Regions from separate parts of the Homo sapiens genome. Here region 1 is linked to region 2. The links come from fine-mapping of genetic effects on gene expression. A gene starts in region 2. The other region holds a variant in brackets. All regions are shown on one strand. Distances are from middle to middle. Region 1 overlaps LOC107986860 (endogenous retrovirus group K member 19 Env polyprotein-like). Region 2 holds the start of GIMAP2 (GTPase, IMAP family member 2).

Evidence for each region. PIP is the estimated chance that this variant, and not a neighbour inherited with it, causes the effect.
Region 1: its variant is the best candidate, but not a certain one, in a credible set for the expression of GIMAP2 in nasal epithelium (TOPMed, PIP 0.67).

Annotation. Positions count from the first base shown.
Region 1 is chr7:150,552,468-150,557,846 of GRCh38, forward strand. All of the region lies in intron 1 of LOC107986860 (endogenous retrovirus group K member 19 Env polyprotein-like), which reads right to left. Among named protein-coding and RNA genes, the nearest start is that of GIMAP4, 12 kb to the right of the region's middle. The variant G/T (reference allele first, on the strand shown) is at 2,707.
Region 2 is chr7:150,683,075-150,688,453 of GRCh38, forward strand. GIMAP2 (GTPase, IMAP family member 2) reads left to right here and starts at 2,632. Exons shown (of 3, transcript NM_015660.3): 1 at 2,632-2,711; 2 at 3,978-4,013. The coding sequence starts at 3,986. It overlaps LOC124901774 (a long non-coding RNA gene), which reads right to left and starts at 4,639. Exons shown (of 4, transcript XR_007060589.1): 1 at 4,523-4,639; 2 at 3,048-3,102. RefSeq lists an enhancer at 2,507-2,706.

The DNA of each region.
Region 1 (5,379 bases), 130 kb before region 2:
GAGCTGAAAAACCCACTACAAGAATTTCAGAATGTAATTGCAAGTTTAAACAGCAGAATAGACCTAATTGAGGAAAGAATCTCAGAGTCTGAAGACTGACTTTCTGAAAGGAGGCAGTCAGACAAAAATAAAGACAAAAGAATGAAAAGGAACAAATAAAATCTCCAAGACATGTGGAATTATGTAAAGAGGCTAAATCTATGACTTGTTGGCATTCCTGAAAGATGAGGAAAGTATAAGCAACTTGGAAAACATATTTCAGGATATCATTTATGACAATGCTCCCAACCTAGCTAGAGAGGCCAATATTCAAATTAAGGAAATGCAGAGAACCCTGAAAAATACTTCACAAGAAGATCATCTCTCAGACACATAATCATCAGATTCTCTGAGGTTGAAATGAAAGAACAAATGTTAAAGGCAGCTAGAGAGAAAGGGCAGGTCACCTAAAAAGGAAGCCCTTCAGACTACCTACAGAGTTCTCAGCAAAACCCTACAAACTAGAAGAGTCTGGGGGCCTATGTTCAACATTGTTAAAGAATAGAAATTCCAACCAAGATTTTCATATCCAGTCAAACTAAGCTTCATAAACAAAGGAGAAATAAGATCTTTTTCAGAGAAGCAAATGCTGAGGGCATTCTTTACCACCAGAGCTGCCTTACAAGAGCTCCTGAATGAAGCACTAAATGTGGAAAGGAAAGATTACCAGCCTCTACAAGAAAACACACTTAAATACACAGACTAGTGACACTATAAAGCAACTACACAAACAAGTTAGCATAACAACCAGCTAATGACACAATAACAGGATCAAATCCACATGTGTCCACATTAACCTTGAATGTAAATGGGCTAAATGCCCCACCTAAAAGGCACAGAATGGAAAGCTTGATAAAGATGCAAGACCCAATGGTATGCTGTCATCAAGAGAGTCATCTCACATGCAATGACACACATAGGCTTAAAATAAAGAAGTGGAGAAAAATCTACTAAAAGCAAATAGAAAACAGAAAAAAGGAGGGGTTGCAACCCTAATTTCAGAAAAAAAGAACATTAAACTAACAAAGATTAAAAAAAGACAAAGAAGGGAATTACATAATGGTAAAGACTTCAATTCAAAAAGAAAATCTAGCTATCCTAAATATATATGCACTCAACACAGGAGCACAGAGATTCATAAAGCAAGTTCATAGAGACCTTCAAAGAGACTTCAACTCCCACACAATAATAGTGGGAAACTTCAGTACCCCACAAACAATATTAGACAGATCACTGAGGGAGAAAATTAGCAAACATATTTAGGAACTGTACCCAACATTGGACCAAATGAGCCTGATAAACATCTACAGAACTCTCCACAAAAACACAATTGAATATACATTCTTCTCATTACCTCATGGCACATACTCTAAAATCAATTGGACATAAAACAATCCTCAACAAATGTAAAATAACTGAAATTATACCAACCACTCTCTTAAATTGTAGAGCAATAAAAATAGAATTCAAGACTAAGAAAATTGCTCAGAAGCATGCAACTACATGGAAATTAAACAACCTGCTCCTGAATGGCTTTTAGATAAACAATGAAATTAAGGCAGAAATCAAGAAGTTCTTTGAAACTAATGAAAACAAAGATATAGCATGGTGGAATCTCTGGGACACAGCTAAGGTAATGTTAAAAGGGAAATTTATAGCACTAAATGCGCATATCAAAAGATAGAAAGATCTCAAATTAACAACCTAACACCACAACTAAAAGAACTAGAGAAGCAAGAGCAAACCAACCACAGTGCTAGTAGAATACAAGAAATAATCAGTGCTGAACTGAAGGAGAATGAGACATGAAAAACCATTCAAAATGTTAATGAACCCAAGAGCTGATGTTTTGATACAATTAATAAGATAGATAGACCACTAGCTACACTAATGAAGAAAAGAGAGAAGATTCAAATAAACACAATTAGAAACAAAAAAAGGGGATATTACTACTAAATCCTCAGAAATGCAAACAACCATCAGAAACTACTATGAACACCTCTAGGCACATAAACTAGAAAATCTAGAAGAATTGAATAAATTCCTGCACACATACACCCTCCCAAGACAGAACCGGGAAGAAACAGGATCCCTGAACAGACCAGTAATGAGCTCCAAAATGAAATCAGTAACAAATAGCCTGCCAACCAAGAAAAGCCCAGGACAAAATGGATTCACAACCAAATTCTGCCACATATATAAAGAGCTGGTACCATTCCCACTGAAACTATTCCAAAAAAATTAAGGAAGAGGGATTCCTCCCCAGTTCTTTCTATGAGACCAGAATCATCCTGATACCAAAAACTGGCAGAGACACTACAAAAAAAGGAAACTTCAGGCCAGTATCTCTGAGGGACACTGATGCAAAAATCCTTAACAAAATACTGGTAAGCTAAATCCAACAGCACATCAAAAAGCTAATCCACCATGGTCAAGTAGGCTTTATCCCTGGGAAGCAAGGTTGGTTCTACATACACAAATCAATAAATGTAATTAATCGCATAAACAGAACTAAAGACAAAAACCACATGATTATCTCAATAGACACAGAAAATGCTTTTGATAAAATGCAACATTCCTTCATGTCAAAAACTGTGAATAAACTGGGTATTGAAGGAACATTCATCAAAATAATAAGAACCATCTATGACAAACCCACAGCCAACA[G/T]TATACTAAAAGGGCCAAAGCTGAAATCATTCCCCTTAAAAACCCACACAAGACAAAGATGCCATCTTTCACCAGTCTTATTCAATATGGTCCTGGAAGTCCTAGCCAGAGATCAGGCAAGAGAAAGAAATAAGATTGGATAAAGAAAATGTGTTACATATACATCATGGAATACTATGCAGCCATAAAAAAGAATGAGATCATGTCCTTTGCAACAACGTGAATGGAATTGGAGGCCATTATCCTTAGCAAACTAATGCAGGAACAGTAAAGCAAACACTGCATGTTCTCACTTATAAGTGGAAGCTATATGATGAGAACACACGGACAGAGGGGAACAGTAGACATTGGGGCCTACCTTAGGGTGGAGGATGGGAGGAGGGAGAGGAGCACAAAAGATAACCAATGGGTACTAGGCTTAATACCTGGGTGATGAAATAATCTGTACAACAAACCCTCGTAACACGAATTTACCTATATAAAAAACCTGCACATGTATGCCTTAACCTAAAATAAGAGTGTTTTTAAAACCTACTTGCTAAAAATAGGATCCCACTTGTTCTTCCCCATCTTCACTCTCCATCCTCCATCAAGCCCCTCAAATCAATAAATATTCCACTTTAAAGTATCATAAGGCTATTCCAGTCATGGCATGGTACTGCTGAATCATATGGTGACTTGCATTCAAAATGTCTGATCTGGAATCCTTATGAGGATAGAGTTACTTTAATATCATAGGTCACTGTGATATAATAGTCATTTATTTAGCCAAAGTGATAACCAAAATATTTCAAAAAGCAAAAACCTTTACTCTTTGATAGGGAGGAGACTCAGTTTCCTAAACAATCATAAGACCTAATAAAGGCACTGAGTATCAGAAGTAGTATGGCAGCTAGAGTTTTATGATCTTAAAACATCCAGCAGAAAGATTATAAACCTTCCTGACCAAGACAAATGTGTCTAAATTAAATTTTGAAGACATTTCTATTTTAACAACAATTTAAAAACTATATTTATCAAAGACTGCTAAAATCACATAAACTTGAAAAAAACTGGACTTATTTATTTCATTTATGAGTACTCCTTTGTTTATAAGCCAATTTGATATCACAGTAAATACATAAAAACATACTCACATGTGCACATAAAAATACAGAGAGAAGCAAAGATACCCAGCCTTGATTTTAAAACTCTAGCCATGAAACTGGCAGAACTCACTCATCCTAAAAGACATCTGGATTAAGCTTATGTCCCTGCAAATTGAATAAGTCAATGCCCACTTGTCCCTGACAACTCAAGCCCTCACCTAACCCCAGAGGAAACAGGGTAGCAATCCACATCTCAAAGGGGTCAGGGGAGAGAGAGAAAGTCCACGCTCCTTTAAGAAGGAATTTGTGTGTGTGTGTGGTAGAGAAAGATCAAAAAAGGATGCCAAAACAATGCAAAATTATAGGAATTCACCATAGGATTTCACAAGGAGATCAACTTCATTTAAGATAGGTAACTTTTACTGCAGTCTGTTTCTTCAACTTGACTACTGAGCCCAGGGTGGAGCCCATCAAGGAACAGGGCCAAAAAATTACTTGTAATTTGTAAACCCTAACAATTTACACAGTTGAAAAGCAGAACACCCAGACTTTTAAAATCGAGGACTTCTACACTGAATCTCAGGTCCTCAAAAAGAGAGAAATGCCATAGGACCAGGCCATGCAATGTCTCTATATGCTTCCTGTTATAAAGATAAGCCTCTAAGTGCTCAGACTACGCCATTCCTATTCAGATGTGCAAAGAAACAGGCATGCCCTTGCAGCAACATTTACCACAAACAACTTTTGTCAGCAACCTCTGCTGCACAAAAGCTTCTGCACAGCGAAAGAAACTACCATCAGAGTGAACAGGCAACCTACAAAATGGGAGAAAATTTTCACAACCTACTCATCTGACAAAGGGCTAATATCCAGAATCTACAATGAACTCAAACAAATTTACAAGAAAAAAACAAACAACCCCATCAAAAAGTGGGCAAAGGACAGGAAAAGACACTTCTCAAAAGAAGACATTTATGCAGCCAAAAAACACATGAAAAAATGCTCCCCATCACTGGCCATCAGAGAAATGCAAATCAAAACCACAATGAGATACCATCTCACACCAGTTAGAATGACGATCATTAAAAAGTCAGGAAACAACAGGTGCTGGAGAGGATGTGGAGAAATAGGAACACTTTTACACTGTTGGTGGGACTGTAAACTAGTTCAACCATTGTGGAAGTCAGTGTGGCGATTCCTCAGGGATCTAGAACTAGAAATACCATTTGACCCAGCCATCCCATTACTGGGTATATACCCAAAGGACTATAAATCATGCTGCTATAAAGACACATGCACACGTATGTTTATTGCGGCACTATTCACAATAGCAAAGACTTGGAACCAACCCAAATGTCCAACAATGATAGACTGGATTAAGAAAATGTGGCACATATACACCATGGAATATATGCAGCCATAAAAAATGATGAGTTCATGTCCTTTGTAGGGACATGGATGAAATTGGAAATCATCATTCTCAGTAAACTATTGCAAGAACAAAAAACCAAACACCGCATAGTCTCACTCGTAGGTGGGAATTGAACAATGAGAACACATGGACACAGGAAAGGGAACATCACAC
Region 2 (5,379 bases):
TCGCCAAGTCAATCCTAAGCCAAAAGAACAAAGCTGGAGGCACCACGCTACCTGACTTCAAACTATACTACAAGGCTGCAGTAACCAAAACAGCATGGTACTGGTACCAAAACAGAGATATAGACCAATGGAACAGAACAGAGCCCTCAGAAATAATTCCACGTATATACAACTATCTGATCTTTGACAAACCTGACAAAAACAAGCAATGGGGAAAGTCACCGCAATTTTTAAATTCACAGTAACAAGCCTCCCCTCCCCATGTTTTGGAATTTTGGGATGTTAAATCCACTTGTTCCTTTTGTTTTGCAATTTCTCATCATATCTTTACCTGTGCACCCCCTCCTTTTACATACACAATGTTTTGTATCATCTTATTGAGAATGATATACTCTATAATTGCACTGTTCAAAACGGTAACCACTAGCCACATGTGGCCGTTTAATTATATGATTTAAAATTAAAATGTAAAATTCAGTTTCTCCATCACATTGGCCACCTTGCTAGTGCTCAACAGCCACATGTGCTAGTGGCTGCCATATTGGACAGGGCAGACAGTAAACATGTCCATCACAGAATTCTCTATTGAACAGTACTGCTTTATAAATAAACACTTTACAAGAAACCACAGAACAATTGTCAAATACATCTCAATATGACTGCAGGAAATCTGTGGTCTATTCTTTCGGCTTGACCCATTTTCCAAAATTGCCTTGAACCATGGGAATAAAATGAATTTTAAAATGTCATAGTACTCTAAAACATGCACCTCTACTCAGCCCCTGCCCTCTCCTTCCTCACCTCCTCCCAACATCTATCTTACTCCTCCTTTAAGGCTGTAGTCACATCACTTACTAGAACCATGGGACATAGGGGAAATGTTCCATGTATGCTCATGTTCAGAAGGGACAGGAGTGAGAAGGCTTGAACAAGAAATTTCATGAGGGAGATATTTAAAACTGTGCTTGGAAGTCTCTACAGATGATCTAAAAGATGAAGCAGGAGAAGCAATATTTGCATCTCCAAACCTAGAGGAACAGTGCAAAAACAGAAGGACCTATCTCCAGTTGCTGGGAGTGAGACCAGTTGTTAGCTCTCAGCTGTTGAGCCGTCAGACCTGTCCAGAAATTAGCTTATGCTGAAGAGAGATGCCCTATGTAAGTCAAGTGTCTTTTCCAGAGGAAGTTTGCATCCGATGGGGATTATAAAGTTCTGCTCACTCTCCTTCATTCTGAAAGTCCAACCAAACTTTAGAACTCCCTGTAGAGTCTATATTTGTTGTGACTACATCTCAGTCTCACTTCTCCCTGCCTAATCCTGGGTTCTTCCCTTCTCCCTCTAGCACATTTCCTGAGAAGATTCCCTAATAAACTTCCTTCATCCATTTTATCTTCATCTCAACAGTCTGTATTCCTAGGAACCCAAACCTTTGCACATGTACATGTACATATCACTTATGTTAGGAAACGCAGTGATGTAATTTGCAATATTAGTAGGTCAAAAGGAAAAAGACATGGAATTATATCAGTCAACGTCAAAATAAAATTTTCTAAATTTATACCACAGATAAAAGACTTTAATGAAATAGGACTAAGCAAAGTATAGCCACACTGATTTTAAAATAAACTAATTAATTTCCAATAACCAACATCAATATTAATGATAAGATATTAGGTGCCCTACAGGTAAATAAATAATAAAAGCACATTAACTCACTTTTGAAAAGGTAGCAAGCAATTGTAATTATACAAGAGAAAGCAACATAAGATATTTTTGGAAACAAGGAGGGAAAATTATCACTATTTGCAACTGAGTCTATGATAAACCTGGAAACTCCAAGACAATCAAAAGGAAATGTTTTAAATGCTAGGATGTGGAGAAATAAGAACACTTTTACACTGTTGGTGGGACCGTAAACTAGTTCAACCATTGTGGAAGTCAGTGTGGCGATTCCTCAGGCATCTTGAACTAGAAATACCATTTGACCCAGCCAACACTCCAGAGTATTACTATAGACATTTCCTAGACAATTTCTCCCCACAGGGAGGTTCTCTGAAATTACAGAGCTGGACAGGGAAGAAAGGCCCAGAATCCTAGAAGCCATGAATGAGTTATGTAAAAATGTTTTGATGGTTAATGATCCTTACAATCAGACTCAGACAAAAATGTCCCCTCTCAGGTTCCCCTTTCTGTGCCCTTCTTCCCCTGGGCAGTGCCTATCAGAGGCTCCTCTTCTCTCCCAGTGGCATCTGCTTTAGAACAATCCCTGCTGCTGGTGTCAATGAGGTTTAAGCCCTTCTCAGGGGGCCATTTGCATCTAGACAAACTTCTAACTGTTGGGACATATCCCAGCTGGGAAGGACTGAAATCCACCAACTTCCTTGGCATTCATGCCTTTCTTTCCAGTCCAGATGAAATCATTAAAACACTCTTTTTTCACTTTTGAGAAGAAGAGACAGTTGGCCCACATGACAGCAAATAACTACTGATTAACTTTCCATTTAAACTGTTTATTTTGCATAATGGCATGAAAGAGAATTTCAAACACAGGCACGTGGTGGCGTTCATTAGCAGTCAGGAAGCTCAGGAAGATTCAAGAGAGGAAGAAGACCGACTGGAGTCTCGGTTTTACTTTCTTTTTCTCTTGGAGCTGAGCTATAAGACAACAGGACTGAACAGGGAGCCAACTGTTTCTTTGAACAGTAAATCAGGTAAGCCCAGATTTACGAAAAGTTCTGCAGTGTTGATTTCTAGGTCCCAAGCCATGCACAAACATTTTCATTTTTCTTAGAACAAATTTGTCCTATTTTAAGAGAAGCAATTTAGAGTGACTGCCTTTTCCTTAAGTGGAGCCAGTTTACAGGAAACCGATGTAATTTACTTTACACATTACTGGCAAAGAAAGAATTTCCATAGTATAAAGTCAATAAAAAGTGCTAACTGGGAAGAATTTGGGCATTAATCGGTGGCTTTCAGTTTTCTGTGCTTGTACGCTTGGTCTATGCCTGCCAGATTTAAGCAAGAGAAACTAGCTGATGAAAACGTACCGATATTTCTCACTCCATAGTAGTTCCTACATTGCAAGGGCTTCATAACCAGGGGCTGTTGGGGAATGAGAAAAATTCAAGCCATTAATGGATCAAGTGAAGTGTATTTCCAGCTTAAAGGACTGCACGGTTTCCCAGAGTCATAATCTTCATTCACTGAGTCTCTCAGCAAAGACTCAACATGAGGGAGGAGGTTTGGAGAGAGTAGAGGAGGGAAGGAGGCAAGGTGGGAAAAGAAAGAGAGGGAAAGGGAGGACTGAGCCTAAGGTGTAAGGGAAGGCACACCTACAGAGAAAGCTGACAGAAGCGAAGAGTGTGCAGGCAAAACAAAAACAGAAGGGAGCCGGGCTGATCTGTGAGAGGACGGGAGGAAGAAAGCGAGAGAGAGCTGGGCATGAGGCTTACAAATGAAACCCACTTCTCAGCCCCTCAGCAAGTGATTCCAGTTCTCTGTAAAGTAGGAAGTCATTCCTTTCCCACCCACCTTGTCCCTTATGAGTAGACAAATGAAACATGGTTGTTTAGAAATATAAGGATCTTGGCCTAGTGTGATGGCTCACGCTTTTAATTCCAGAACTTTGGGAGGCCGAGGCTGGTGGATCATTTGAGGTCAGGAGTTTGAGACCAGCCTGGCCAACATGGTGAAACCCTGTCTCTACTAAAACTACAAAAATTAGATGGGCATGGTGGTGCACACCCATAATCCCAGCTACTCGGGAGGCTGAGGCAGGAGAATCACTTGAACCCAGGATGTGGAGGTTGCAGTGAGCCGAGATCGCACCACTGCACTCCAGCCTGGGTGACAGAGTGAAACTGTGTCTCAAAAAAAAAAAAAAAAAAAAGAAAGAAAGAAAAAGAAAAGAAAAGAAATATAAGAATTTTTCATGATTTAGAACTGAAAAATAAGTTTCTTGTCTCTCTGTTTCTCAGGAACACCAATGGACCAAAATGAACACAGTCACTGGGGTAAGAAGGTGACTTCACGTGTGTGTGTGTGTGTGTGTGTGTGTGTGTGTGTGTGTGTGTGTGTGTGTTTGGCTCTTCTGATGATGTTGGGGCAAAATAAACAAGGGTGAAGGATCTTATTCTAACTCCCACAGCTACCACCACCAGCAGCTGAAAATTGTGGGGTTTTGTTTTCTTTGTTTGTTTGTTTGTTTGTTTGTTTTGAGACAGTGTCTCTCTCTGTCACCCAGGCCGGAGTGCAGTGGCGCAATCTCGGCTCACTGCAACCTCCACCTCCCAGGTTCAAGTGATTCTCCTGCCTCAGCCTCCCAAGTAGCTGGGACTAAAGGCACACACCACCACGCCCAGCTAATTTTTTTTTGTATTTTTAGTAGAGACGGGGTTTCACCATATTGGTCAGGCTGGTCTCAAACTCCTGACCTTGTGATCCACCCGCCTCAGCCTCCCAAAGTGCTGGAATTACAGGCATGAACCACCAAGTCTGGCTCGAAAATTGTTAAAATACTCACCAGGATCCAAAATATGCATCCAGGCTTTTCCCTTATGCACAAATCTTTCAGATCTCTTTGAAATACTCCTTCTCCTACCATTCAGTCTTCTCTTCCTTCTCTCACATTTCCATAGGTTCTTTGTGTGTGTGTGTGTGTGTCTCTCTCTCTGTCTTTCTGTCTGTCTCTATCATTCCCTTCTCTTCCCTTGTCCTTTCTCTCTCTCTCCTCTTCTTGCACCTGTTTCTGCTATCTGTATGGTATGGGCGTCTCTCTCTCTGTATCTTGACCTCCCCTTTCCCACTCCCTCCTCCTCACTCTCTGCCCCTCGACAGCCCTGTCTTCAGTCTCTTACATCAAGAAGAGCCCAGATCTTCCTCCTTACCAAGTTGCCTTCACACTCAACCCTCACCTGTGAGAAATAGGAGGTCTCTGGCTTCATTGTGTATGGAACTTGTTTATTGATCAAGCTGAACTCTGAGATCCAAATGAGAAACAACTTTTTTTTTCCTCCCAGCCACTGACTCTTATTATGCAATCTTGATTTCCTTTTGTTTTGGTTGCGGGGTGGAGGGAATGGAGTCTGGCTCTGTGGCCCAGGCTGGAGTGCATTGGTGCAATCTCAGCTCACTGCAACCTCTGCCTCTCAGGTTCAAGTGATTCTCCTGCCTCAGCCTCCTGAGTAGCTGGGATTACAGGCATGTGTCATCATGCCTGGCTAATTTTTATATTTTTAGTAGAGACAGGGTTTCACCATGTTGGCCAGGCTGATCTCAAATTCCTGACCTCAAGTGATCTGCCCACCTCAGCCTCCCAAAGTGCTGGGATTACAGGCGTGAGCCACCACGCCCGGCCACAATCTTGATTTATTGATGCCA